Homo sapiens: one gene and its partner. The protein of the gene in region 1 purifies or fractionates together with the protein of each later gene. This does not show direct contact. Each region holds a gene or a part of one and is shown in the gene's direction. Other genes may lie near its edges.

Region 1 (4,197 bases):
TGTAAGATGCTGCAACTGTTATGAAAACAGTTTGGCAGTTTCTCGAAAAGTTAACCATAGAATTACCATGTGACCCAGTAATTCCACTCTTAGGTGTATACCAAGAAAATTGAAAATAGGGATTCAAACAGATACTTGTACATCAGTGTTCACTACAGCATTATTCACAATAACTAAAAGATGGAAACAACCCAAATGTCTATTAATGGATGAATGAGTAAACGAATTGTGGTATATATATACATAGAATGGAATACTATTCAATCATAAACAGATATGAAGCTCTGATACATCCTACAACATGGATGCACCTTGAATACATTATGTTACTTGAGAGAAGACACAAAAGGACAAATATTGTATGATTCCACTTTTATGACATGAAGTATCTATAATAGGCAAATTCCTAGAGACAGAAATAAGATTAGAGGTTTCTTAGGATTGAGGGGAGAGGAAAATGGGAAGTTGTTGCTTAATGGGTACAGAATTTTTATTTGGGGGTACTAAAAAGCTTTTGGAAAAATATACTGGCGTATTCCACAACATTGTATCATGGAATTGTCACTTGAAAATGGCTAAAAATAGCAAATTTTAACACACATATTACAACAATAAAAAATAAAAAAGTAAAGGTTTGTCAGGCATTTAATAATTAATACCTTTCATTGTTTTTGTCTGGAAAGAGTGTGTGCAAAGATACTTAACAACCAAATGTAATGTGTGATCCTTGATCGGCTCTTGCATTTTTTTTTTTTTTTTTTGAGACGGAGTCTCACTCTGTCGCCCAAGCTGCTGGAATGCAGTGGCGCGATTGGCTCTTGCTTTCTAAATAAAATGCCTATAAGATATTCTTAGGACAAGTGGGGGAAATTAAATCGGGAAGAGAATTATTATGAAATTAATGATCTTAGGTATAATAATTGTACTGCGGTTATGTAGCAGAACATCTATTCTTAGGAGATACATGCTGCAATGTTAAAGGGTTAAGTGTTACAATGTCTGCAATGTTAAAGGGTTAAGTGTTACAATGTCTGTAACTTACTTGCAAATGGTGACCCCAAAAAGGTGTGTGTGTGTGTGTGTGTGTGTGTGTGTGTGTGTGTGTGTGTGTGTGTGTGTGTGTGTGTCTGTGTACGCGCTTTGGAAGGCTACAATTGCGAGAAGCGCAGGTCTCCGCCACCGAAGCTTTAGACTCATAAGCCGGGTCAGGCCAAATTCCGCTGTGCGTAGGGGAACAAACGGCACAAACGGGGCACAAAAGGGGAACAAACGGCATACGCAACCGTCCCCGCGGGAGCCCCGGCCCAGCTCAGCGCACCCGCCAGCATGCCCCACCCTGATTGGTCCACTTGCTCAGCTCGCCGGCACCCCTATATCCAATTGGCGTAGCGCTTGCTGAGCGGCGGCGGCAACCGACGTACACAAGGGGCTTGAGCGTTCTGTGGAGAGAGTGCGAGGTCAGGCCATGAACTTGGGGTAAGCAGGGGTAAGCTGGGGTAAGCTGGGGTAAGCAAGGTGGTCGTCAGCGGAGAGGGAGGCATGTGTGTCTGGGTTGTCCCTTGGAGTCTTTACTGGAGAACGTTCCCAACCTGCGCCGCCGAGAGGGGCAGAGCCCAGTTCTCGGGTAGAAGATCGAGGCAGATGGGTCGGCCCTTAGCGACTCCACAGACCTTACGTTTTCACTTAATGACTAGCATTAAAACTGCCAGTGATCCCCTTTCGGTCCCTTATTTACCTCAGGATGAGGAGGGAAGAGAGGTGAGGAGGAAAGGAGAGAAATGACGAGACAGTTAGAGGAAGCGTGGCGGCTCCTGGGGAGGACTCCTGGCCCATGCCCCGGGTTCTTCGCCACCTTGTTTTTGGAGTCTTGCAGAATGTTGAAACGCCCAAATTCGTTTTAGGCCCACGAGGCGGGGAACCAGGCTTCTCAAGAAATCGATGTAGTACCAGTGCCTAACACCTAGTAGGCGCTCCTTAAGTAGGGGTGAATAAATAAAAAGGGCTGGTGCATGGTCTTCATCACTCGCAAGTTTGATATTTTGAGAAGATGAGAAGCCACCAAACTCAGACCTAACTACACATCGTTCAGCAAATGTTATTATGTTTTAGAATCTGGGGATATGGAAATAAATAAGATAGTGTGTCCCTTAAGGAGATTACAGTGCAGTGCGTCATTGAAGGTACTTTACCATTGAAGCTCTTTTCTTTCTTGGTGACGTTTCACCAACATAAACACGAACTGTTCATAACCCTACAATAAGGAAAGCCGTAAAACCTATTCTTTCCAGTGTTTTACCTTTAATAGTTAAGGTGAGGTAATTTGATTTCCCCTACCTGAGCAACACCGCAAATTTCGCATTCCTAATCAGACCTTTCCCAGCCTCTCTCTCCCTTGACTGGCTTGCTGGATTTAATTTTCTCTCTCTGAATTATGGACTGTATGTATGGGCTGCCATTTTTGTTCTCAGTGGAGTTTTAGGACCTTAACAGACGTTCAAGTTTTGTTGGCAGTGGCTACTGTTACTTTATGCCTTTGCTTCTGATATGCACGTATAAAGCACCATACTAAATATCACTATGTATTATTTGAAATATTGAAAGTGGTACTCTTTGCTCAAGCAGTTACTAACCTTGATGGCATTGTTAGTAGTCATATCGATGCTCCAGCACTCCATAGAATGTTTTAGTCATGAGTTCATTATGAAACTAATGAATGGCGGTTAAATATATCTTGTTCCTTTAACTTATGTGAGGAGTTTTGGTAACAGCATTATTAAAAAATGGTGGTATGATAACTTAATTTATAGTTTACCAATAACAAAATGAGATTTCAGGTTAATGATAACAATGCTTGTAGTATTGAAGAGTTTCAAGAATTTTCCCCCTGTAGTTGTGGGTTTTATCTTGGATTGCAAACGTTTTTAATTAAAACACTGGTTCGATGTGTACAAGATTCCTGCATAAATTCAAAATAATGGATTTATTGTCAGGTTCAAATGAACATTTCTGGTTATTTAAAATGTTGCGGTTTGTTAAAAATGAGAGACAACTTTCTTTTTTTATTACAGAGATGGTTTAAAGCTTGAAACTGAATTACTGGATGGAAAAACCAAGCTAATATTGTCTCCATATGGTATGTTGTGTTACAGAAATCTGAAATGTTAACTTTTAAATTCATACATAAAATTTATATTAGTTCAACAGACTTTTTGCTTGTAATAGAGTGATATTTAAATGATATTTTAGAAAAAGCTGTTTCCTCAAACTTCTGCAGATTTCCTTCTAGCCAAATAAAATCAGATTACAACACTGCTTACTACTGTCAGTATTCAGACTCATAACATTTAATGTTCCAGTATATTGCGTGTTCATTATATCCATATAGCAAATATCCTCATTGCCTGATGAATAATACAAGTAAAATTTATGTAATTATGTTCTTTGCATGTAAAGAATGTATCATTTGAGAAAAGTTTATAGTAAGACCACCGTAAAATGCTAAAGTCACTTTTAGTATTCGTTTTTAAACTCAGTGTACTTTGGTACCTTCTCCTTCGCATTTTTTTTTCTGTTTATAGTTTTACCTTGGAAAGATAAAAAACAAAAATAAAATAGAAGTAAATCCTTGAACTGGATTAGAAAAAAATACTCAGTCAAGATCTAAAGTTTATGCTTTCGAGGATAATGTTGCTAGCTTAAAATCTTATAACAATATTAATTACAGTTTTCTTGCATTACCACCTTAGTATGCTTTTGGTGGATAGTTTAGTAATTTCTTTTTTCTTTTGTAGAACATAAATCAAAAATTTCTGTGAAGGTAAGCCGTATAACTTTGACCTGACCTGTTTTCAAATGTAAAATGCAGTTTTATTTATAGTGGTTAGAAAATAATTCCTGGGAAATGTCAAGTGTTCTAAGGGGTTTGGAATTATAGTGAGGAGTTATTATTTTCTTGCTTTCAGATTGGTCCTTTCACAGAAATTGAATCATTTTAGGTTTAGCCCAATAGAACCTCTTTCTCTAGATAAGTGCTATTCAGTAAAGCATCTGTGTTAATGGAAGTGTTCATTAATAAAATCAGTATTATTGAATATGGAAGCCACTAGTCATGTATAGTTATTGAACCCTTAAAATGTAACTAGTATGACTGAGCAACTGAATTTCTAATTTCCTTTAATTTTTAATGGAATTTAATGG
Region 2 (3,500 bases), on another chromosome or scaffold:
GTCAGCCACCAGGCCCTCTCTGAACTCCTCACTTGACCCGGAGGCATTGGGAGCAAACACAAAGCTCGCCCCTGGTGTCAGTGGTGCAGACAGAGGAAAAGCAGAGGGTCCGCAAAATGCAACTCCTCCGTGGTGAGACTTTGAAAAGGTGTAGAGTGGTTGCAGACAAACAGCAAAGGAGTGGAATGGAAAAATCTCTCTTGCTCCCCACAAGAAGTCCACTCCCCTACGGATTCCTCAGATGCCACTGGCTGGCACAGCCTTTCCCGCCCTTGGTGTGGGAGCAGCAGAAGTCCAGCGGGGGTGGGAGAATCATCGGGGTCAGGTCAGTGTCTCCCTCGTCTGAAGTCAACCACTACTTTTCCCTCAAGCCTACCAAAGAGCTAAAGTCTGATCTGTAGATGTCTGATGGTTTGAGGAGAAGAAAAGATAGTCTTTTAGAGAAGTGGGGAGTATCCAACTTAGGGTCAAAATACACTGAGATTAGGCCGGGCACAGTGGCTCACACCTGTAATCCCAGTGCTTTGGGAGGCCGAGGCGGATGGATCACTTGAGGCCTCCAGGAGTTCGAGACCAGCCTGGCCAACATGGCGAAACCCCGTCTCTACTAAAATACAAAAAATTAGCTGGATGTGGTGGTGGGTGCCTGTAATCTCAGCTACTCAAGGAGGCTGAGGCACAAGAATAGCTTGAACCGGGAGATGGAAGATGCAGTGAGCCAAGATCACGCCCCTGCACTCCAGCCTGGGCGACAGAGACTCCGTCAAAAAAAAAAAAAAAATACATTGAGATTACCAGGTGGGGTATGTGTGGTTCTTCCAGGAAAGTGCTGAAAATATCACCCAGGCCTCTGCGCCACGCCCTGGGAGAGTACACTCCTGGGCTCACGCCTCTGCATTCCAAGGCTGACAGCTAGAAATATACTTTGTAAAATACCAACAACTTATTCACAAATATTCCAACTATCTACCAGCTCCAATGAGCTTGCTGAGGATGGGTATGACCCCAGTCTAAGGGGAAAGAATCTAAAACACAAGTAAACCTGTTTAAAGGCCAGATCTCCAGATGGAGATCCAAGCAGATGGCGCCTAAGGTTTGCCCTTGAAAACTACCAAGGAAGCCACAGAGAGGGATCTTTGGACCTTCTGGAAAATGGTAAGGCCCCAGGTAGATTATGGCTCCTCTGCCCTGGAGGCTGAGCCGCCCCTCTGGTTACCTCACATCTTCTGGTTTCTTCTGAGTGGGACTTGATCTCATTTCTGCATTCACAGCAAGGTGGAACTGTCTGGCAAGAGCTTAAATTAGGACCTGTGGTGGGGACTTTAATAGGCAGGTGGAGGTTTGAGATCCAGTGAGATGCCAGAGATTAGTCAATAGGTGAGGAAAGATTTGGCCCAAATCAAAAGAGCTAAAAAAAAAATAATAAAATAAAAATAAAAATAAAATAGTTGAACAAATAAGGTTCATGAAAAAAAAAGAAAAGAAAGAAAAGGTAAAGAAAAGAAATCCATGATAAAATATCAAACTTTTTAATAAAAACAAGTCTGGCCCTGTACTTGGATGACCCCACCTGGCTTGTCTAACCCTAATCCCAGCCCCAGTTTTAATAAAACTGTATTTACAAAATAGGCAGCTGGGACGTGGACCAGAGATACCAATTTGATTTTTTTTAAATATTACATTAAAATATTACATCATGTGTCTTCATTACTGAGTTTTGGGGTAGCCCTTTAAATTTTGTATGCAAGGTGAATACCTCACCCCTCTCTCCTGGCCTAGAATCTGGGGGATCCTCCTGTCCCTCCCACAGTGCCTGATAGCACAGCCTGGGGCTGGTGGTGTGCCTGTTTGCCTAGCTTTATCTCTCCAGATACTATTTGGGGTGTGCTGTTCTAAGAAGTGATTAGGTTAGCTTTTGCATATTAACAAACTACCTCTGAAACTTAGTGGCTTAAACCAACAAATGTATTAGCTTTATAATGATTTGGATCAGTGATGGGGGCTGGGCACGGACAGGCGATTCTTCTGCTGGGCTTGGCTGAACTCAACTATGTCTTATGGTCAGAGGGCAGTCAGGGGCTTCGCTCATGTCTGGTAGTTGGCTGTTGGCTGAGCCCTTGGTTCTCCTCTGGCTTAGGCTTGTTCACATGGTGGCCTCGGGGCTCCCATGGCAGTTAGAGAAATCAAGCCCAAGTCTCATATCACGTTCACTATTCTCCCATTGTCCAAAGCAGACCACATGGCCAAGGCCCAAGTCTGTGTGAAAGGATGTGGATACAGGGACCCCGAATGAACCAGAGGCAATACTGCTGCAAGCTACCACATAGATGCTGTTCAGAGCTTTGCAGGACCAAATCTTTTAGGGCTGTTTTTCCATTGTGGTATACCCTCTCCATTTAGATTCAATTGAACAAATATATTCTTTGGGGCTGCAGTGTGTCAGATGTGGAGACATGGTCCCACTGGCTTTCAAGTTGCCATCCATCTTCTAGGGAGAATTTCTGGCCTTTTCGGATGGCATGGTCCAGGCCGGAGCACCAGCCCCAGGTTGAAACATCAGGCAGGTTTCTAGGAAATGGTTGCAAAATTAGCAAAAAGTCAGGGCTACAGAGCCCTATCCAGAGTCGTCATCTTAAGGTGTCTACTAAAGCCTGGGGGTGGATGGGATCTCAGAAGGGGGACTAGAGAAATAGGAAACTGGGGACAGAACCCGGGGGTGAGAAAGAAGACAGCAGGTGTTGTGGGAAGTCAGGGACCCCAAACGGAGGGACTGGCTGAAGCCATGACAGAAGAACGTGGATTGTGATGATTTCATGGACATTTATTAGTTCCCCCAAATTAATACTTTTGTAATTTCTTATGCCTGTCTTTACTACAGTCTCTAAACATAAGTTGTGAATATTTCATGGACACTTATCACTTCCCCAGTCAATACCCTTGTGATTTCCTATGCCTGTCTTTACTTTAATCTCTTAATCCTGTCAGCTGAGGGGGATGTATGTTGCCTCAGGACCCTGTAATAATTGCATTAACTGCACAAATTGTACAGCATGTGTGTTTGCGCAATATGAAATCTGAGCACCTTGAAAAAAGAACAGGGTAACAGCAATTGTTCAGGGAATAAGAGAGATAACCTTAAACTCTGACCACTGGTGAGTCGGGCGGAACAGAGCCATATTTCTCTTCTTTCAAAAGCAAATGGGAGAAATATCGCTGAATTCTTTTTCTCAGCATGGAACATCCCCTGAGAAAGAGAATGCACACCTGGGGGTGGGTCTCTGAACTGGCCCCCCTCCCCCGGGGGCGTGGTCGTCTCTTATGGTCGAGGCTGCAGAGATGAAATAAACTCCAGTCTCCCATAGCGCTCCCAGGCTTATTAGGAGGAGGAAATTCCCGCCTAATAAATTTTGGTCAGACCGGTTGCTCTCAAACCCTGTCTCCTGATAAGATGTTATCAATGACAATGGTGCCCAAAACTTCATTAGCAATTTTAATTTTGC

What was found. The genes of interacting proteins can lie anywhere in the genome.
Region 2: the proteins of CCDC66 (region 1) and ARMC9 purify together in Homo sapiens (co-immunoprecipitation; one large-scale study listed by IntAct). This does not show direct contact.

Annotation. Positions count from the first base shown.
Region 1 is NC_000003.12:56,555,778-56,559,974, forward strand, and holds the start of CCDC66 (coiled-coil domain-containing protein 66), read left to right. Parts: upstream 1-1,397; 5' UTR 1,398-1,465; coding exon 1,466-1,476; exon of another isoform or gene 1,477-1,486; intron 1,487-3,068; coding exon 3,069-3,133; intron 3,134-3,791; coding exon 3,792-3,817; intron 3,818-4,197. UniProt on the Homo sapiens protein: Microtubule-binding protein required for ciliogenesis. May function in ciliogenesis by mediating the transport of proteins like BBS4 to the cilium, but also through the organization of the centriolar satellites.
Region 2 is NC_000002.12:231,373,131-231,376,630, forward strand, and holds part of ARMC9 (lisH domain-containing protein ARMC9), read left to right. Parts: 3' UTR 1-3,500. UniProt on the Homo sapiens protein: Involved in ciliogenesis. It is required for appropriate acetylation and polyglutamylation of ciliary microtubules, and regulation of cilium length. Acts as a positive regulator of hedgehog (Hh)signaling.